6 separate regions of the Homo sapiens genome follow, and all the other regions are reported to be linked to region 4. Evidence: microRNA targets listed by miRTarBase, many of them from high-throughput screens and not tested one by one. Region 4 holds a microRNA gene; each other region holds the end of a gene's coding sequence.
Evidence for each region. The annotated mature microRNA hsa-miR-132-3p reads UAACAGUCUACAGCCAUGGUCG and lies in region 4 at 2,510-2,531, opposite strand. An mRNA with a match to its seed (bases 2 to 7 or 8) in the 3' UTR can be bound and repressed. Matches are read on the target gene's strand: a 7mer-m8 pairs with bases 2 to 8, a 7mer-A1 pairs with bases 2 to 7 and ends in A, and an 8mer does both.

Region 1: the mRNA of EML4 is a reported target of hsa-miR-132-3p. Seed matches in the 3' UTR shown: 7mer-A1 at 2,329-2,335 and 7mer-A1 at 985-991.
Region 2: miRTarBase lists LFNG as a target of hsa-miR-132-3p. The part of its 3' UTR that is shown has no 7-base or 8-base seed match.
Region 3: the mRNA of INTS8 is a reported target of hsa-miR-132-3p. The part of its 3' UTR that is shown has no 7-base or 8-base seed match.
Region 5: the mRNA of FAM199X is a reported target of hsa-miR-132-3p. Seed matches in the 3' UTR shown: 7mer-m8 at 2,614-2,620.
Region 6: the mRNA of FGF22 is a reported target of hsa-miR-132-3p. The part of its 3' UTR that is shown has no 7-base or 8-base seed match.

The regions. Positions count from the first base shown.
Region 1 is chr2:42,329,498-42,332,920 of GRCh38, reverse strand. EML4 (EMAP like 4) reads right to left here. Exons shown (of 23, transcript NM_019063.5): 23 at 373-3,187. The coding sequence ends at 2,714. Among named protein-coding and RNA genes, the nearest start is that of COX7A2L, 30 kb to the left of the region's middle.
Region 2 is chr7:2,526,551-2,529,973 of GRCh38, forward strand. It overlaps LFNG (LFNG O-fucosylpeptide 3-beta-N-acetylglucosaminyltransferase), which reads left to right. Exons shown (of 8, transcript NM_001040167.2): 7 at 286-371; 8 at 596-1,879. The coding sequence ends at 662. MIR4648 (microRNA 4648) reads left to right here and starts at 524; the gene lies at 524-595. RefSeq lists enhancers at 1,819-2,793, 2,794-3,423 and silencers at 2,799-2,858, 3,379-3,423.
Region 3 is chr8:94,879,687-94,883,083 of GRCh38, reverse strand. It overlaps INTS8 (integrator complex subunit 8), which reads right to left. Exons shown (of 27, transcript NM_017864.4): 27 at 1,338-2,966. The coding sequence ends at 2,850. CCNE2 (cyclin E2) reads left to right here. Exons shown (of 12, transcript NM_057749.3): 10 at 192-303; 11 at 795-952; 12 at 1,339-2,860. The coding sequence ends at 1,452. Among named protein-coding and RNA genes, the nearest start is that of CCNE2, 14 kb to the left of the region's middle.
Region 4 is chr17:2,047,420-2,050,842 of GRCh38, forward strand. It overlaps MIR132 (microRNA 132), which reads right to left and starts at 2,589; the gene lies at 2,489-2,589. It overlaps MIR212 (microRNA 212), which reads right to left and starts at 2,961; the gene lies at 2,852-2,961. It overlaps LOC124903896 (a long non-coding RNA gene), which reads right to left and starts at 2,530. Exons shown (of 2, transcript XR_007065576.1): 1 at 1,742-2,530; 2 at 1,288-1,339. RefSeq lists silencers at 2,285-3,084, 3,095-3,244.
Region 5 is chrX:104,189,300-104,192,722 of GRCh38, reverse strand. It overlaps FAM199X (family with sequence similarity 199, X-linked), which reads right to left. Exons shown (of 6, transcript NM_207318.4): 6 at 1-3,115. The coding sequence ends at 2,945. Among named protein-coding and RNA genes, the nearest start is that of FAM199X, 25 kb to the right of the region's middle.
Region 6 is chr19:642,799-646,181 of GRCh38, reverse strand. It overlaps FGF22 (fibroblast growth factor 22), which reads right to left. Exons shown (of 3, transcript NM_020637.2): 2 at 2,844-2,947; 3 at 1,809-2,772. The coding sequence ends at 2,578. Among named protein-coding and RNA genes, the nearest start is that of FGF22, 4.6 kb to the right of the region's middle. RefSeq lists an enhancer at 1,097-2,037.

The DNA of each region.
Region 1 (3,423 bases), not on the chromosome of region 4:
CATGGGAGAGATGGGAGAAAGCAGAGAATGCCATGGCCTACTGAGTTCAAGTACTTCACAAAGGCTAACACTGCGAGGCAGCCTAGTCGGATGGGTAACGAAGATTATCAGGATTATCCAATATTAAACATTAGAGAAAGTGCTGACATGAAATAAGTGAAAACAAAGCTATCCACATATTCAGGGGGAGCATAAATCAGAAGTAATTTCCTCTAACATTATGAGATGGGAGTTTGTTACTACCAGAATGATTTTATCCACAGCAGCAGCAGTAGCCCACTGATAAATGTTGTCTTCTGAATTGTCATGCCTTCTGATAACTGGATAGTCATGGAAACTCTCAGTATAAATGAAGAAAGAGTTAAGACGCACTTAGAAAGAGGAAACATTTTGATTATTTTATTTTTTAATCTTCAAAATTTTCTGCCATGAGACAGGAATGCATGATAGCAATGGCTCAACATCTTCACATGAAACACTTGGATTCATTTTCATTCACAAGTTTTTCTAAAAACATCTACAATTTCATAACCCCACCCACTTCCAACCATTATCACAGATTTAACTGACCATTAAACAGTAGTTGCCAGCATTAAATAGCTGGAACGCTTCCTGCGTATTAGTAGTGTCTTTTGAAACTACCACCGAAGAGTATCATGATTATAAATCTCATTGTACATGGCAACCCCAAAGGTGACTGATGTCCTCAAATAAACTCCCTGCTGATCACTGAGAGCTGTATTCCCCAGGTACTTAAAGAAATGCTCTTTCTTCTCCAAGAACTGCCTGTTCATGTCAGTATATTTCTTGCAGGGAGTATAGCACATGCTGATCTGATGATGTAATAATCATTGCTAACAGACAGATATATATGCCTGATACTTACTGGCGCGCTCCGATAAGTATGTACAGAACATACATACTGAAGAAAGATGGGTTGCTTGGAATCTCTCTTCTTTTGAAGAGAACTATTTTGAGGTTTTTTAACAGTTGTAAACAAAAGGAAAGATATACAGATACCTATACACATAGAGATCTACACTGAGTATTTTCAACGTGGTGCATATCTTCTTATCTAGAGATACACACAGTGTCTCCACTCGCCCCTTCACACACACCCACACCCTTCCATACAGCGTGTGAATATAAATGTTGTAAATGTCCTTGGGAGTTCACTGGAGTTTTCATATTACCAAATGATGATGAAATACCTGATTTGTATTACTCCTGAGAAGATATTAGAAGGGAATGACAGTTCTGATGCACTTTGGAATGGCACAATCACGTAAACGCCTGCATACTTAAGACTTCTTAACTCATCCAAAGTTTCTAAACATGATTTGACCAAAAAAATAGAAAGTATCAAAACAATGCAGCAAGTTAAAAAATCAAAACAAAATACTTTTTTATAATCAAAGTATAAACATATAGGAAATACATATTTGTCAGTAATTACTCTTAAAGTAGGAAATGTACTGAAAACCATAGCTAGCCAACAGAACTTAAAAAAAATACCTTTCCAATGCATAATACATGCATTGCCCAAAAGAGTAGGATAGCCACATTAGACTTACAAGACTTACAGCAACTCCACCAGAAAAAAACTGCTACACAGCAAGTCTGTTAAGTATGCTGTTGGTAAAAAAAACTGCTGTGACTGTTACCCACACTTCTGTAAAAAAAAGAATTTGCAATTTGATGAGTATCTTATCCCTCATATAATCTGTATAAAATTACAACAAAACCAATAAATTTCAAGCACCAATTCAATAATCTAAACTTACTGTATTTATATTTCTCCTATTACTGAGGGAACAAATTATGATGAAGGCTTAGCTGAAATTAGCCAGGTAATTATTACAGTTTAGTTTTAAAGGCATGTGGTTTTCCTTCCATTCACTTGAATCTCAAACATTTGAGAATGTTTAGGCTAGTAAAGGACTCCTTGGAGGAATCCATCATTTCTGAGTATTGAAGGTTTTAATATACATTGAAAGCTCTTTAACAAACCAATGCTCTCTTAGTTCTAGGATAAAACAGAGTTGCACACAAGAAATTAAGGGACTGTTCCTCATTATGACTTAGAAAAGGCAGCACCTCTCTAGTAGACTAAGAGCATGTCTGGACATCCACTGGTAGTGTAAGAAAACGGCATTTTTTAAAGAAGGCAACACCATTGCACTTGGCAAAACTGAAGTTTTTCTTAATTAAAAATTTTCCATTACACATTTGGGGTGAGAGGGTATCTCAGTAAGAGTACATTTTTTTCTGGTTTCTTTTTCAGGAAAAAAAAAAAAAAAAGTAGTACAGTCTGAGCCAGTAGATGAGTAACAGTGTTTGTGATACCTCTGGTTGTTCCTGAAGAAAACATGTTCAGATAACAAGGGGGTTTGTTTTCAAAATCAATGCAACTGCTGTTTTTGTTTCCAGTATTTACATCACACCACTTAGGTACACAGTAATTTGTGAGACATCATTAATGATTCAGTCTTCTCCTAGTATTAAGTTTGGTTAATTTTCAATAAACACCAAACTAAAACTTTAAGTTGGCTGTATTTGAGAGACTGAAAATAAGACTATTGAAGAAAACAAATCACATGGAAACCAAAATCTCAATCAACAGTGATTCTCCATCACTGCCCATCCTGTTACCTGAACTTTATCACAAAATCACATGCAGCTGAAGGAAAAGAGTTGCACTGAAGCCAGGGTGTTAGGACGAGGGCGAAGGGTCTTGCTGGTCCTCCAGAAGGGTGGCTTTGGCCTGCTCCTTGCTTATCTCGTTGCATGGCTCTTCATAAAGAGGCTCACCAAGGTCTCCGCTGCCCTCTTCACTCTCCTCCTCGCTGTGGTCTTCACTTGGCTCCACAGTTTGTTCCAGGCTGTTCTCCAGAAGTGTGGGAGAACTGCTTATTCTACTTTCCTCTTCAGCTGTCTCATTTAAGGGCTGAGAAGGAGGCGGTGTGGGAGTATTAGATTGGATGACACTTTCAGTGGAAGAGACGGGGGCTTTGGTTAGAGTAGTATCCGCTACAGTCTCATTCTGAGGCAAAGATAACTTTTCCACAAGTTTCCACTGAATGATGCTCATGTCTTTTCCACCAGTTGATATCAGGTGACTGTCATTGTGAGTAAAACTGACATTGGTGACATGGCTGCTGTGGGCACTGTACTTGTGACTGGGAGCCTATATGAAATAAATCAGACAGACAGGAAAATTAAACTCATTCTTGACATGCCTGTTTCAGAAATGGAGGTGATACGTAAGGGGGGTAAACTCAGCTTGTGAAATGGGCAATCCAATTTAAAGCCAGAAGTCATCAAATCTCAGGAGTAAGGCTAGCCGTTATTTCCTTTTATTATCACTTTACATAGGAAAAACGAAACAGAAGAATTGGACATCTCTGTATTTTCACACTATAT
Region 2 (3,423 bases), not on the chromosome of region 4:
CCTGCCATGAGCTCAAAGCTGTTTATGGCGGGTTGTTTTCCTGCCGTCTCTTCTCTTCACTGTGATGCGCCTACTGTGCGTATTTTGTCCACGCTGGCAATGCAGCCAGCCCCAGCTGGTCCCCAGTTTGGGACCTTATTCCTGGGGTGTGCAGGGCAGGTGTCCTTCCAGGTCCAAGGGAGGCCAGGGCAGGGCCGTTGCCTCACTCAGGGCTGTGTGGCCAGCCTGGGGCGGGGCCCAGGGATGTCGGGCCCCTCCCGGCATCACTCCGCCCGCTCCCCACAGGTGACGCTGAGCTACGGTATGTTTGAAAACAAGCGGAACGCCGTCCACGTGAAGGGGCCCTTCTCGGTGGAGGCCGACCCATCCAGGTAAGGAAACCCCGGCCCAGATGGGCTTGCGTAGGGTGGCCTAGGGGCGTCAGGGGGCCTCGTGGAGCTGCAGCAGGGTCTCTCTAAGCGGCATGACTCTACATAGAGGTGTCCCCCGGAGTCCTGCTTGCTCGGGGTGGGGCCGCCAGTGTTGTGGGACTGCAAATGGGAGCTCAGCACCTGCCTGCCACCCACGCAGACCAGCCCCTGCTCTGTTCCCACAGGTTCCGCTCCATCCACTGCCACCTGTACCCGGACACACCCTGGTGTCCCCGCACTGCCATCTTCTAGTGGCCATGGCTGAGACCCAATCCCTGGGCGCCCCTGGTATCCAAAGGGCCCAGGGACCCTGTTGCGCTGCCCTGGCCTCGGCATTCGAGGCTCCCCTAGGGCCGTGCCTGTGCGTGTGCGTGTGCGTGTGTGTGTGTGTGTACTGCATGCCCACCCGGGTAGCAGGCTGCTGGGCAGTTCTGCTCTGTGGAGGGGCGGGCACCAGCGCCACTTATGTGCCTCTGCTCCGAGGGCCAGTGGGCTGCAGGGCCTGCTTGGAGGAAGGATTTGTGTGTCGGAGGCCACTCCGAGGGCAATTCTGTTAGGATTTTTGGATCTTTCTACAGCTACGGGGCTCCGGGCTACTTTGCAGGGATGCGATGCGTAGGTGCCTTTCTCTTCCTGCTGACCACAAGCTCTGTGCTGGGGGTACCTGTGCCCTGAAGTCCTGGCCCCTGTGTCATAGCCCCAAGTACGACTCACTGAGCCATGCTCATTGCAGGGGAGGCTGGGTCTGGGGGTGCGTGACCCAATCCCCTTCCTCCTGGCCTGGACGCTGTGGCTTAAGAGTAACAGCAGCCACCGCCCAGTTCCAGTGGCCCCACGAAGCCCCCAGTGGCTGGCTGTCCAGCTGGGCAAACAGTGGCACCCCTCCCAGCTCTTCTGAGTGGGGAGTCTTCCAGGCCTCCTCAGAGGTCTTCCCTTTGCCTCCCCAGGACAGGGTGAGTCAGAGCTCAGCATTTAATCTCCTCTCCAAAGTAGAGAGCAAGTCGCCCACAGTGGGCGTGTCTGTAAATATTGTGACAGTATTTTTTTACTGTGCTGTTTTTTTTGAAAGGGGATGGGTAAAAAGTAGGGTGTTCTTGTTTTTTGCTTGGGAGGGTGGGGGTGGGGGAGGGTCTTATTTTATCTTATCTTTTCTGTGGATCAGAAAAAACAGAAGCCAAACTCGGGGTCATCTTTGTTTTTAAAGCTGAAGTGGGACTGTCTGGCACTCTGTGTATTTATGCGTTCCAGCATCTGGAACCTCCCATCCCTGCCCTCCTCCTGTGTAGCTGCCACCTCCCCGCTGGGCCCAGCATGGCTCACCTGTCCCGTGGGCTGTGTTTCTTGTTGTTTTTCTCTTTGCAAAGACATAGCTAGGAAAGCGAATGATAAGGGAAAAGTTCTCAGGGAATTGAAGTGTTGTTGCTATGGTGACGTCCTTTTGCTGTGAATAAAGGTGCTCTTTGCAGCAATCCTGGGGGTCCTGGTCTTGGCTGGAGGTGGGGCCTAAGCCCCAGGGCAGCCAGGGTCAGGAGAGGCACACAGGTGAAGGGGAGGCTTGGCCTTGGGTGCACCGCATGGAGCAGGTAGATAGGAAACGCTTAGAGACAACTATTTTGGAACGAAACCTGGCGTCACTATAGCTGCCTGCTGGTGACTACAGGTGCGGCCCACCCAGGGTCAGGGTGGTCGCTGGAGCGTGAGCCCTGTGCTTCCAGGAGGAACAGGTCTAGGATGCTGGGGGCTCTAGGTCCCAGCCAAAAGCACAACCCCAAGGCTCTGGCCTGGTCTGGCCACTGGGGAGCCCAGCCCCTGCAGGAGGGACAGTGACTCCTGTGACCGGGCCTGGGGCCTCCTTATCCAACTTCACTCCTGCCACGAGCTCACAGAGTCCACATCATCGCCTCACTTTGCAGGTGGGGAAACTGAGGCACGGAGCAGCTGATGCCCAAGGTCCAGCAGCCATGCTGGTGGGCTGGGGAGGCGCTCAGACTCCAAGCCAGGCAGGCCGTGGGTCCGGCCGCCCCACAGCTGGTAATGCTGCACCTCCCTCTCCTGTGATGTGGCCCCAGGCCCCGACCCCGCTCAGGGGTGGTGGGAAGAGTCCTGGAGAGCAGGAGCAGTGCCGGAGCCCCCACTGCAGCTGGTCCCAGCCCCTGCAGAGATCCAGACGCTTGTTTTTTAAATACAGCAGCTCTGCGGTGCTTTTCCTTCCTCAAATCCAGCCTTTGAGGGTGACTGAGTAGGGGACGGGTGCTGCAGCCTCTGCGGGGATTCCCTCCCCTCACCCTCCTGGCAGCCCCGGGGCGGCTCACTTCCTCTTCACCATGAGCCCCCACCCCTTCCCTGGGGCTTACACCCTTGGCCTGGCACTGCCCTGGCCGCGCCCCTTGCAAGTTCCTGCTCTGGCCTGACCCTGCTTCCCCCGACCCCAGGGCTCCAGGTCCCCCTCCTGGTGCCTCTGCACCCCCCACTCTGCTCCAAGGAGACGACACACTGTGAAAAGTGCCTCTCTATGGGGGGGTGCCTTGCCCTCCCCCGTCGCTGCCCCCTCCAGAAGAGTGCTGACGTGCTGAATGGGCCTGCAGAGACCCCCTTACTCTAAGCCTGGCTGGGGGCTACCCTGGCCTTGGGGGCGGCTGGCAGGGCTGTGACCCCACCTTGGCCTTGGACGGTCCTGAGTCAGCAGAGCAGCTGCCTGGGGGGTGTGGACAGTGATGGGGATGGCGGGAGGATGGAGGGCCCTCACCGTCACGTGGCCTGACCCCCGTCTGGGTGGCTGTGGTCCTCCCTGAGCACCCACCATGTGCCCACCCACTTCTCATAGGACGGCATAGGCCCCTCTTCTGAACGAGGAAGCTGAGACTCTGGGGTGGGGCGGGGGGGTCGTGACGGAACAGGCTGCGGGCAGAGGCTGCTGGCCTCCTTCCTGCCCGGCTGACTCAGAGGCTTGGGGCCTTCTGCCCTGGCCCCGACGCTGTCCCCGCCTGCAGCTGGCATCGCCTCCCCACAGAGC
Region 3 (3,397 bases), not on the chromosome of region 4:
CAGGATGGTCTCGATCTCGTGACCTTGTGATCCACCCGCCTCGGCCTCCCAAAGTGCTGGGATTACAGGCGTGAGCCACCGCGCCTGGCCGGGTGGTGGCTTATTTATCTCTAGATCCCTAAGGTTTTAGCAAGAGACATTTAGTACTCATCTTTCTCCTAAATTGCTTGTACTTTTGTTTTTCCTGTTAGCTTTTAGATCTGTGTATTCTAGCCATTGATTCATTAGAGTTCCAGTACAGAATACTGACTGCTGCTGCCTTGTGCCATTTTACCTCCATTGAAGTGGTTAAGAAAGCCTCAGGTAAGACTCTCTATTTGTTGTCTTCTTACCTTTTCACAACTTCTAATGGGACTACAGTCTCTGAACTTTAACATTCTGCTAAACATGCATTTAAAACTTTGGCAAAAAAAAAATTAGCTGTTCAGTAATTATCTTTCTGTTAGAAGTACTTTCCAATCCTGAATGTGTATCAACAAAAAGACCAAATGGAATTTAAATACAGTTGAAATGAATCAACATTATAGTTCTGCTTTAAGAGTTCTTTGGGATTTGACCATTTCAATTTCATATGTAGAAGGTACTGGTTAAGAAGTTCTGAAGTCCTTTTTCCCTTCAACATAGTCATGTAAATAGTTTGAGAGTGATAATCTGTTTTGACATGCTAAACTTCTTGGTTATGATTTGGTTTCTTTTAAAATATCTCAAAAACAGCAACAAGTACATCAGACATATGTAAGATAGTTTCTGATGTACAACCTTCATGCTTTTCTAACTTTTTTCTATCTATCTAGGTTTGGAGTGGGACAGTATTTCAGAATGTGTAGATTGGATGGTACCTTTTGTCAATGTAGTAAAAAGTACTAGTCCAGTGAAGCTGAAGACTTTTAAGAAGATTCCTATGGAAGACAGACATAATATCCAGACACATACAAACTATTTGGCTATGCTGGTATGTTTTTTTGTGAGTTTTTTGGCTTTGCTATCTGAATCTAGTAAGTCACCAAAACTGATGGTAGGAATAGAGTACTCCTTCAGGCAGTTTCAGGGGAAAGAAAGTTCTAAGGGGCACACTGATTTCAAAATGTAGAAAAGTTAATAAAATTACTTTGAAATCAAAGCAAGATTTGTGAAGTGTCTCAAGATCAATGCCAACAGTCTAGATAAAGAGTTTAAAAAATATATAACGTTACAGAAACTTTCAGAATATGACCCTTCACACTTGCAAAGACATAAAAAGACTATTAAAATTAGGCCTAAATAATCTCAAATAAGTACCCAGAAGTCTGGTTTGACTTTGATTTATGAAATCAGTGCATGATTTCTTCCCATGTATAGGAGGAAGTAAATTACATAAACACCTTCAGAAAAGGGGGACAGTTGTCACCAGTGTGCAATGGAGGCATTATGACACCACCGAAGAGCACTGAAAAACCACCAGGAAAACACTAAAGAAGATAACTAAGCAAACAAGTTGGAATTCACCAAGATTGGGTAGAACTGGTATCACTGAACTACTAAAGTTTTACAGAAAGTAGTGCTGTGATTGATTGCCCTAGCCAATTCACAAGTTACACTGCCATTCTGATTTTAAAACTTACAATTGGCACTAAAGAATACATTTAATTATTTCCTATGTTAGCTGTTAAAGAAACAGCAGGACTTGTTTACAAAGATGTCTTCATTCCCAAGGTTACTGGATAGAAGCCAACCACAGTCTATACCATAGCAATGTTTTTCCTTTAATCCAGTGTTACTGTGTTTATCTTGATAAACTAGGAATTTTGTCACTGGAGTTTTGGACTGGATAAGTGCTACCTTAAAGGGTATACTAAGTGATACAGTACTTTGAATCTAGTTGTTAGATTCTCAAAATTCCTACACTCTTGACTAGTGCAATTTGGTTCTTGAAAATTAAATTTAAACTTGTTTACAAAGGTTTAGTTTTGTAATAAGGTGACTAATTTATCTATAGCTGCTATAGCAAGCTATTATAAAACTTGAATTTCTACAAATGGTGAAATTTAATGTTTTTTAAACTAGTTTATTTGCCTTGCCATAACACATTTTTTAACTAATAAGGCTTAGATGAACATGGTGTTCAACCTGTGCTCTAAACAGTGGGAGTACCAAAGAAATTATAAACAAGATAAATGCTGTGGCTCCTTCCTAACTGGGGCTTTCTTGACATGTAGGTTGCTTGGTAATAACCTTTTTGTATATCACAATTTGGGTGAAAAACTTAAGTACCCTTTCAAACTATTTATATGAGGAAGTCACTTTACTACTCTAAGATATCCCTAAGGAATTTTTTTTTTTAATTTAGTGTGACTAAGGCTTTATTTATGTTTGTGAAACTGTTAAGGTCCTTTCTAAATTCCTCCATTGTGAGATAAGGACAGTGTCAAAGTGATAAAGCTTAACACTTGACCTAAACTTCTATTTTCTTAAGGAAGAAGAGTATTAAATATATACTGACTCCTAGAAATCTATTTATTAAAAAAAGACATGAAAACTTGCTGTACATAGGCTAGCTATTTCTAAATATTTTAAATTAGCTTTTCTAAAAAAAAAATCCAGCCTCATAAAGTAGATTAGAAAACTAGATTGCTAGTTTATTTTGTTATCAGATATGTGAATCTCTTCTCCCTTTGAAGAAACTATACATTTATTGTTACGGTATGAAGTCTTCTGTATAGTTTGTTTTTAAACTAATATTTGTTTCAGTATTTTGTCTGAAAAGAAAACACCACTAATTGTGTACATATGTATTATATAAACTTAACCTTTTAATACTGTTTATTTTTAGCCCATTGTTTAAAAAATAAAAGTTAAAAAAATTTAACTGCTTAAAAGTAAAGTTTTGCCATTGCTTGGAGAAACTTTTTTTTCCTTCTCTGCGCTGCCAGCTGTAACACTTCTTCTGGATTGCTTGCATTCAACTCTGTCTGGCCGATGGCTTTGATCTTCCAAAACAGAAAAGTGATGTTATTAGAGGTGTGTCAAAAATTAAGTTTTGTTGGTACAAGTAATATAAAGCTACCTACGTGCTAACAACGATACAGTTTAATGATTAACTGAACCTCTTAACTGTAAAACCCAGGAGTCTTGGAAAAAAATTAACATAAAGATTAACCAGGGCCACTCTCAAGGAAAGATGGACTGCTGAGCCATAGTTTATGGAATTACTTAAGTGGCATTTTAATATATTAAGTAAATTCATGTAAATTTATTTGAAAGTATAAGTAAGCTCTACATGGCGATTTTTAGAGTTAAACTAGGGCTCCACTTGTTAATGTGCAAAAATAACTGGTGGCTCAGCACTATGGTAGCATATAGTTGCTCAACTTTTCATGATTAGAAAGAAGTGCCTCAACCAACTAAATATACACACTAG
Region 4 (3,423 bases):
TCAGCCACCCAGGCTGGAGTTCAGTGGCACGATCACGGCTCACTGCACCTCCGTCTCCTGGGTTCAAGTGATTCTAGTGCCTCAGCCTCCCAAGCAGCTGGAATTACTGGCAAGCACCACCATGGCTGGCTAATTTTTTGTGTTATTAGTAGAGACGGAGTCTGACCATATTGGCCAGGCTGGATTATTATTAAGACAGGGTCTACCTCTGTCACCAGGTGCAGGATCATGGCTCACTGCAGCCTCGACCTCTTCGGCTCAAGTGACCCTCCCGCTTCAGCCTCCTGAGTAGCTTAGCTGAGACTACAGGTGCCACCTATCACACTGGCTTTTTTTTTTTTAAGACATGGGGTCTCACTATGTTGCCCAGGCTGGTCTCGAATTTCTGGGCTCAAGCAGTCCTCCAGCCTCTGCCCCGCCCCGCAAAATGGTGTGATTACAGGCATGAGCCATGTCTCCCAGCCCTAAATAATGATTTTTTTTTTTTGAGACAGGGTCTCACTCTGTCATCCAGGCTGGAGTACAGTGGTGCAATCACAGCTCACTGCAGCCTCAACCTCCCAGCCTCAAGCAATCCTCCCACCTCAACTTCCCAAGTAGCTGGGACTACAGGTGTGCACAACTAATTTTCTTTCTTTTCTTTCCTTTCTTCTTTCCTTTCTTTCTTTTTTGTAGAGATGGGAGTCGCATTGTATTGCCCAGGCTGGTCTCGAACTCCTGGGCTCAAGAGATCCTCCCACCTATGCCTCCCAAAGTGCTGGGATTACAGGCGTGAGCCACTGTGCCCTGCCCTAAATGATTTCTAAGATGCTAAACAACCCTGACGTACGGTCAATCCTCTGGTTCTTTCCCCTCTGACCACATTCTGACCTCTTCTCAGAATATCCCAACCATTTCTGTTTTCCACCTCTGATTCCACCTTGGATTCCTAGAGCTCTTAGGAGAGAGAACCCCCTTAGCAAGGAACCTCTCAACAGCCCCAGGCCCAGAGTGAACCCGGGAGGCGGAGGTTGCAGTGAGCCGAGATAGTGCCACTGCACTCCAGCCTGGGCGACAGAGCGAGACTGTCTCAGAAGAAAAAAAATAAAAGTATATGTATGTATAACATATATATAATATAGATTATATATATATTAGACAATAAATATATATAGCCTAAAGCTCAAGGTGTACCCCCCACATCCCGTTCATTCTGCCTAAGTGCACAGAGCTGGGGTCCCCTCCCAACACCACCCCTTCACAAACATGTAGTAGCCTAACAGAATACTTAAGATCAAAATAACATTCTGCTGTTTTTGGATTTTTACTTACATGATCCTATTTAATCCTCACAGTGCACCTGCCGAGGAGAAGAGATTATTATCCCGTTTTACAGAAAGCTCAGAAACAGAATATGGCCCCTTAACCACCAGTTGCTGATAATGCCAGGTTGGACCTCTGGCTTCCCAGAGCACTACACCCAGCAGTCCACTGCAGTCCACCCACTGACATCCCCTGGAACCCAGAAGCAAGTGCGTTTTAATCTGCAAGACCTCGGGGCCCTGGGGAGGTGGGATGGCTAGCATGTGGGTGTTGATTAACTGGGAAACCGGCACGAGTGTCTTAGAAGTACTTCACAAAGGAGCCGGGTGGGGAGTGAAGGAGGGGGTGGGGCGTGAGACGTTAAGAAAAATTGGATTAACGTGTCGTGGGCTGGGTTGCATTAACCATTCCCAACACTATCTCTGGGGAAGTCTCACACCTGATATTCAATAGACATCCCCTGTAGTGGGTGATGTTGGCAGAGGCAGGCGACATATACAATAATATTTTTAGAGATCCTTGTTCACACTTCATCCGCACCAGAGGACTTCAGCCCCTGTGGTATTCACTCCTCTTTAGGGCTAATTTGAGAAACTGTCTCAGATTGGAATCCAGCACCTAGAGATAGGCTGAGGTGAGCAGGCTGATCTGTTCAGACGCTTCGCGGACCAGGTTAACTTTACAAGCTCATTGGCTTCCAGAGGGTTGGGGACCCTTCTTATCCTCCTAGCTCAGAGGGAAAGATTCAAGAGTTTACTCTTCGCCCAATGCCCACTTCAGCTAGGGGTTCCTGGAAGAACGGGGCTGTGGAGTATCTCAGAAAACTTTCCTCCCTCTACTGTCTTCAGGCCCCAGGAGACAAACCTCCTTCCAAGCCTCCTGGTCCCAGTGGCTTCCCTCTCACCGAAATCGAAAGAACCCGAGTCCCAGCCCGACCCCTTCTCTCGCCGAGCCCTGGCTGGGATACCTTGGCCGGGAGGACAGGACGGCCTCAGGCTGGCCGCCAGACGCACTCCGCAGGACGCGCGCGCTCGAGCCTCGGTGGACTCAGCCGCCGGCCCCGGGAGGCCGCCTCCCTGCGCAGCACCTCCTGCCACCCGCGCGGGCACGTGGGATCTTGACTCGCCGCCCCCGCCTCCTTCTGCTCCGCGTCCCCAGCCCGCGGCTCGGGGCGCGGCGTGGCGCGGCGCGTGGGCGTGCTGCGGGGCGACCATGGCTGTAGACTGTTACCTCCAGTTCCCACAGTAACAATCGAAAGCCACGGTTGCCCTGGAGACGCGGGGGCGGGGCGCGCGGACGGCGCCGGCGCGGGGCGGGCTGACGTCAGGGCCGCGGGGGGGCGGGCGGGGCGGCGGGGGCTGAGGAGCGCGCGTGGGCCACCGCCCCTCGCAGCCCCTAGGGACCCGGACGGGGCGGCCCGATGGCGGCGCCTGCGTTGATCAGCACCGCGGACAGCGGCGGCGCAGGCAGCGGGCCGGGGGCGGGGCCCTGAGGGACGGGGACTGGGGGTCCCCGGGCGCGGCGGCGGCGGCCGGGGCCGCGGTCCTGGGGCGGGGCCAGGCGTCGGTGGCCGTGACTGGAGACTGTTACTGAGGGCGGCCCGGGCAGTAAGCAGTCTAGAGCCAAGGTGCCGGCGCGCTGTCCGGGCGGGGTGCCCCGGTCGCCCCGGCTGCCCCGGCTGGGGGCTCTGCTGCTCCGCCTCCCCTGCGTCTCCCGCCCTGCCCCGCCCGGCGCTCGCGACCAGGCACGCGGCCCCTGACGTCAGAGGGCCGTGACGTCAAAGATGTCCCAGAGGGGGCACTTCCGGCGGGGGCGTGGGGGCGGGGCGGGACCTGGGAGGCCCCGCCCCCCCGGTCCTGAGAGGACAGCTCCGCTCGCAGAGGCGGGAAGCCGTGGGCGCCGCGGGACCCGCTGGACGGGACCTGCCGGGAAGGGGCGCCCGACGCCATGCGGGGCGGGGGTCCCAGGAGGGCCGGGGAAGCGGGGGTGGGCGTCCGTCTCTCGCCTGCACCCCCGCTCAGCCGGCCCGGGCAGCGAGGCTGAGTCACCGCGCCGCAGGGAGGGAGAGGAGGGGGCGCGTCTCCTGGGGCGCCAGCACCTTCGCCTCACTTTCCTGGGAGA
Region 5 (3,423 bases), not on the chromosome of region 4:
GTAAGTCTCATGAAAAAAAAGTGTTATTTTATTCTAAGTTCTTGTTGGGAGAGAATGAACTAGCCCTTTATACCTCACTACACATTATAATACATCACCTTCCTTTAATTCAGTTGCAAAACTATAGAAAAATATTATATATGTCATTTTGTTAAATGCAAGTCTCATCCTTTAGAAAGCTGTAGTAGGAACTGAGATACTACTATAAGATCTCTAATAAAATGTTTCTGGATAAATCTGTGGGAAATGTATTACGCCCTCAGTTAACAAGGCTTATTTTCAAAGGGGAGACTTAAAATTTGCTCCAATGTCAGTTCTCTACAGATGAGAACCAATACTACAGCAAGTAAGTCTTGCCTTTTTATTAATTAATTGGTTAGTTAGGATTTGTATTTAAAAATAAATATTACTGAGTTGGATTGTTTTAAATTGAACTCAGAGATACACCATATTGAATAAATTATTACTTATTCCAAGAAAGAAATAGTTCAAACTTTGAATTATCTACACAAGACATTAAAACGGAAAAAATGTACAGCACATGAACAGACACCAAAGAGCTTTTTATGTCTTTCTCTGCTAGTTTCTTTTTTGGGGGGACAGAGGACTATCTAATCTCCCTCTTCAATCACAAGCAAGCCCAAGTTAGTTAATTATTTTCTTTTAATCAAAGGAAATATTTTCAATCTCCTTCAACCCAACTTTATGGACTATCTCTAATTTATAGTACTATAATGACAGTTCATCTGGATTTACACAAAATTTCATGATGCACTTCTATAAACATTCAAACCTTTACAAACGTTAAAAATCAACTTTGTGGCACTTTGGTAAACTTGCTTAATAGTGACTCAAGTTAAATTGAAAGTAATAAGACTATGTGATTATTGGGAGAGTAGGGGAATTGGTCTTAAATTATATCATGACCTTGTTTAGGGTTTTTTACTGATGACCGTTAAGTAAATAGTTTCCAAGTATTTGACAGATAAATGGTGCTCTATGGTCTCCAAAAGTGGCCTGTTTTCCTTGAAGAATAGGTAAAGACAGCAGGCAATCATTCTGTGGGATTTTGCTTTTGCTAAGAGCAGGTAGAGAATTTAGATACAGTTACTATGCTCTATTTGCTCTTCCTATACTTGGAAGGGAAAACAGTGAGGTTAAGTTGTTCCACCTCCACAGAGTATTCTGGTGTCTATCCCTAAGCTCTCTTTGGGTCCTCTAAGCTGGTTAGGAGAACCAAAGAGGGGAAGGGGGAAAGTAAGAAAGACTACTCCAATTGAAAACCATAGACACATATGTTTTATTTTAGTAAAAATTTCAAATTATGACTTTAGTAGTCTTTAAAAGGTTACAACCATATCACAGACCTTGGCAAAGCTGCAGTGTATTAATTTTTATCCCCAGTTTCCATTCTTTAACCTTCAAGGAACGAAAATGAAATCAAAATTTTAAAACACATGATTATAAGCCTTTGTATCAACTGAGAATTAAGAATTTAAGTCATGAATCTTTTTCTTAATAAGCTACTTGACGTAACAAAAAGTAAAAAAAAAAGAAATCTTACTAACCTCTGTACTCTTAGAGTTTGAAAAATATTGATTACAGCTCTTCCTACAGAATCACGGTCACCTTCAAAATGCTATCCACAATATAAAGAAAATTATGAAAGTCAGAAAGCAGCTTGATTGTCAGTAGTATCAGTTTCCATCTTCTTTAACCCATGTGAATGTTCAAGACATGTGGTAGAAGAAAAGGAATAATGCTATTTCTAATGTTCATGATAACAAACACTCTAGGAAAACATTTAAAGAAACTCCATGATTTCACAGTTAAAATTAGAGCTCTATTAATAACCAACAAGCTAAGGTGTTTTCTATATCTCATTGCTCTGTATATTTCTAGCAATTTATAGAGAAGTTTAGCAGATCTACAAGGGTTTTCATCAGTTAATTTTCAACATTAACTAGGTCACATGCCAGAAGCTGTTATACCAAATATTTAAAAATTAGAGCTGTGCTGAAAAAAAAATGACCTACAATAAGAACTTGAGAGAGATATAGACTGACTTCCTGCCTGAGACAATTTTACAGCCTAAAAATTCTGAAAGCAACAGAAAAGCAGAATTGCTTATTTTGCCTAATTACTTTCACCATTTAAATATTAATCAACATAGCATCAAGTCTAAAATTCAGCTACTAGTAACATTATTTCATCAGTAGTCATCACTTAAAAAAGGATTCTGAACTTACATAAAGTAAAAAACAAAAATAAATCTAATAGGAAAAAGATAAGGGCCTGTTCTAATACCTTTGAGTCAATAATGAATGAAAACAGACAGAACTAAAACTAATGAAGGCACTATCGTAAACAGCAATCCACACCTTGCCCACCCCCACACCTCAGAAAAGATTTCCACCAGGAATCAAGAATTATGCTATGGCCCTTTAGGAAAAGTAAACTAAGAAATTGTAACATTAAGAAGGGAACTAAATTATGATCTCTACACATGTATGTATACTGACATAATAAACTACTGTCAGCAGTACCTTGAAATCTTCTAAACTGTGTAAGTACTAGTCTTTGAAGACGCCCACTTCACCGCCATAAACTTTAAACAGTCAAAACGTTTACCCAAAGTAGTGGTTCTTAAACTAGACTGTGCATCAGAATAACCCAGCACTTGTTAAAAAAACAATGCTAGGCGCCTCCCTGTTGGTTTCTGATTCACTATGTCTGGGGGCGGGGCCCACTAGTATGCATTCCTAACAACTTCTCAAGTGATGCTGAAGCTGCAGGTCTTGGGATCACCTGCCAAGAACCACTGGCTTAAATTATTAATGGTACATCAGCACAGCCCTAACCAAAATTTTGGTCAAGATGCATGTAAACCCATAAGGATGGAGTATTTTAATGCTCACAAAGAACGTTGATAAATTCACCCTTATTACATCAAAACATCAACATCTGCTTCATGGTCTTCCTCAGTCACTTTCAAGGACAGCACCTCTTCGTTAAGGAAGAGCCCACTGAGCCTCTCCTTCCGGGCCTGCCTCTGCTCCTTCAGCTGCCTCTTGCGGAAGGCCTTCTGCTGTAACTTCCGCTGCTTGGATCGCTTCTGTCAAAATAAAAATTTCTAAATCAGTTTGGTTTAGTTTTTGGCATATCCACCCCAAAATGTTTTGTGGATCAAATTCTCTATTTTCTAACTTTAAGAGCTGTTCAAATCCTTCTGTAGTATGATCCTTGTTCCAATAAGTGAGCCACTGGCTTAGGCTTAAAAATGATTAAGATTCCAATTTTGTGGTATTTGACCAGTGACTCTTCTGATTAGGAAGAGTTGAGACGATCATTTTGGCTAGTGATAGATAAAAAGTCACTTCAAAGACTTCTTTTTTAAATTCCATTAAGGTACATTGGTACAAA
Region 6 (3,383 bases), not on the chromosome of region 4:
GCGTGGAGTGGCCAGAGGAGCAGGACCGATTGGTTCGCCCCACCCAGGCATGAGCCTCGGGGGCGCTGGGCCCAGAGGACACCGGCACCCTGGTGGGGGCTGTGAGGCCGCATTGCTCGAGGTCAGACAGCAGTAAGAAGTGGCCGCCCCTGGTGTCTTCCCTGCCCCAGGAGCCTGCTGCACGACAGGACAGGGCCCTGGTAAGGCCCGCACCCCTGCGTCCCCGGGCCCCTCGCGCCTGCAGCCGCCCTCTCCCCATCCGCCCTGCCGCTCAGGAGTGCTTCGTAAGCGGAAGCACAGTTTGCAACAGTTTGGGGTTGTCTTATTTTCACTGCTGGCGATTTCCTGGGGAGCCGCTGGTTCTGTGCCCCCAGGCCGCTCCTCTCTGTTGGGGGGCCCCCACCTCACTGCCTGAGGACAACGGGGGTCCCCAGGTTTGGGCTTGCGAATAAGCTGCTGAGGGCTCTGTGTGAACCGGGATTTCACTGCCCTGGGATGTGCGGAGCTGTACGCCCATTCCACGCTCTGTTTTAGAAACAAAGAAACAACTGCTGACCTGTTTCTTTTTTTTTTTTTTTTTTGAGACGGAGTCTCGCTCTGTCGCCCAGGCTGGAGTGCAGTGGCGCGATCTCAGCTCACTGCAACCTCCGCCTCCCGGATTCAAGCGATTCCCCGCCTCAGCCTCTCAAGTAGCTGGAATTACAGGCGCCCGCCACCACGCCCGGCTAATTTTTTGTATTTTTAGTAGACACGGGGTTTCACCATGTTGACCAAGATGGCCTTGATCTCCTGACCTCGTGATCCACCCGCCTCGGCCTCCCAAAGTGCTGGGATGACAGGCGTGAGCCCCCGCGCCCGGCCTGCTGACCCGTTTCTTCGAGGCACATGTTACGTTCCTGCGTGGGGTGCCAGCAAGTTTTATTTCAGCTGTGGTGACCTGTGCAGCTCCCAGTGACAACTCAAGTGGCGACGCCCTCCGACTGGCCAACGTGGGCCGATCTCCCCTCACACTGCCAACCTGGGGACATCCTGGGTGCAGCCCTGTCCTCCACCCACTCCATGCCAGCCAAAGATGTCCCCAGAGGCCGCCTGGTGTCCCCTGGGGTGGGGCTCGCTTCTGTCTGCAGGGTGAGCAGAAGCTCTCGGGCCGGGCACGACCCTCCCTTCCCAGAAGGGTTTTCCGTGTCAGGCTGCTCAGCACCTCCCAGCAAGTGCCTCGGCCCAGTCTTCCTGTATTTATGTGGAAGGCGGCGGCTGGGGATGGAGCCCTGGCCGTCCCCGGGGACTTCACCAGGGCGATGCTGCTGTCGCCCCACACACAGAAGGGGAGACAGGCCCAGGGTGTCACTGCCTGGCTCCAGGCTGTGGGGCTCTTGGCTCTGACCTTTTCTCTGAGAGGCTGGAGTTTGACTCCCAGGGCTGTAGGCAGAAGTCCCAGCGGAGTCAGGATGTCAGGAGGGCGCTGGGCACAGGTGGGGGCGCCCCCACACCGACGGCCAGCCCTCTCTGCGTCCCGCAGGACAGCGGCATGAAGCCCCCAGGCCTGCCCTGCACCCAGCACGGCTCCTGCCCTCAGCCTCTGCCCTTCCCGGGGGATCTGAGGAGCACCGAGGCGTCGGCCTCTGCCCTTCCCGGGGGATCCGAGGAACACCGAGGCGTCGGCCTCCGCCCTTCCCGGGGGATCGGAGGAACACCGAGGCGTTGGCCTCCGCCCTTCCCCGGGGGATCTGAGGCTTATTTTGTCATGAGAACAGTTTCAGACACCGTGTGCATATTTCCGACGTCTGCTGTAACAAAAGACCACAAAGTTGATGGCTTACTACGTTTATTTTCTGGCGGTTCTGGAGGCCAGAGTCCAAACTGGGTCCCACTGGGCTCATATCAAGGCAGGAGCAGGCCGGTCCCTCCCGGGGGCTCCAGTGCGGAACCGTTCCCGCCTTCCCCAGCATCTGGAGGCACCCACGTCCCTCAGCTTAGGGCCCTTCCTCCCCTTCACGGCCACAGCGCGGCCCATCCCCATCTCTCTCTGGCTCTCACTGTCCCGCCTCCTGTCGTGAGGACCCTGTGAGGACACTGGGGCCCTGGACCCCCCACCCTGGATGCTCCTCCATCTCCGTCCCACCTGCAGGTGCCTTTGTCCTCGCAAGGCGTTGTATTTGCAGATTCCCGGGACGGGACCGGCTTCGAGGCTGGTGTTCTGCGGCGTCTGTCACCGTCTCCCCGGCCCCCTCCCCTCCCCTCCGCTCCTGCCCCCACTCCCAACGTGCTCCCCACCCCGAGCCCCTGCCTCTGCCGGGCCCTGCCTGGGACGTCCCCCTCGACCTTTCGACGTCTGCGTCCTTCAGCCCGAGAGGCGCCCTGTTGGGTCCTCGAGGTCCCCAACTCAGGATTGAACCTGCTTGGTGGCCACCACCCCCTCAGGCTGGGACCCCCCTGGAGGGCTCCTGGGCTGTGTCCACAGCGCCCGCACACGGTGGGCACTCAGCGCTTACAGAGCCCGCAGGGGGAAGAACAAGCGTGGCCGGGCCCCTCGCCACCAGCCCAGGCACCTTGGGGAGCCGCCGGCCTCTCAGGGCCTCAGGAGACCAGGACGGGCAGGAAGTGGGCGGACAGGTGGTACCGCCGCGTCCGGCCGCCTGGCCGGGGCCCCCCCCTCCTGTCCAGCGCCAGGAACATGGGCTGGCCGCGGCGGCGCCAGCGCTGTGAGGCGTAGGTGTTGTGGCCGTTCTCTTCGATGCGCTCCCGGAACCTGCAGTCCACGGTGTAGAGTCGCTGCGGGCGGGGGTGAGGCCGGCCCACCCTCCCCACCCTGCCCGCGCCGCCCAGCCCTGCCCGGCACTCACCGACCCGTAGAGGCGGCCCCGGCGGTTCATGGCCACGTAGAAGCCTGAGGACACTGCTTTGATGACCACGACGCCCACGTGTACAGAGCGGATCTCCAGGATGCCTGGGGGAGGCGGGGGTCGGGGAGGGCCTTGCTGGCTCACCCCCAGCACCGCTGCTGTCCGCTGTGCTTCGTGCAGGGCCCTCAGGACCACGACAGATACCAGGAGACCCCCGGGACCACGAGTCCCCTCCCGACCACGACGGACACTCAGGATCCCCCAGAGCCGTGACTGACACCAGGAGCCCCCCCCAGCATGTGAGGGAGGAGCAAGGAGCAGGCAGAGGGAACGGGAAGCAGGACGGCCCCCACGAGCTGGGGGAGTGCAGAGATCGATGAGGACCCCGTGGGAGGGCCAGGTCAGCGCTGTCCCTGCAGCTCAGCCCAAGAGCAGCATCTGTGTGTGTGTATGGCGGGGGGGCTCCCACACACCCAGAGGGACGGACGTCAGGGGGGCAGCAACACCACGAGGAAGGTTGGGAAAGGGTTCCTGGGATGT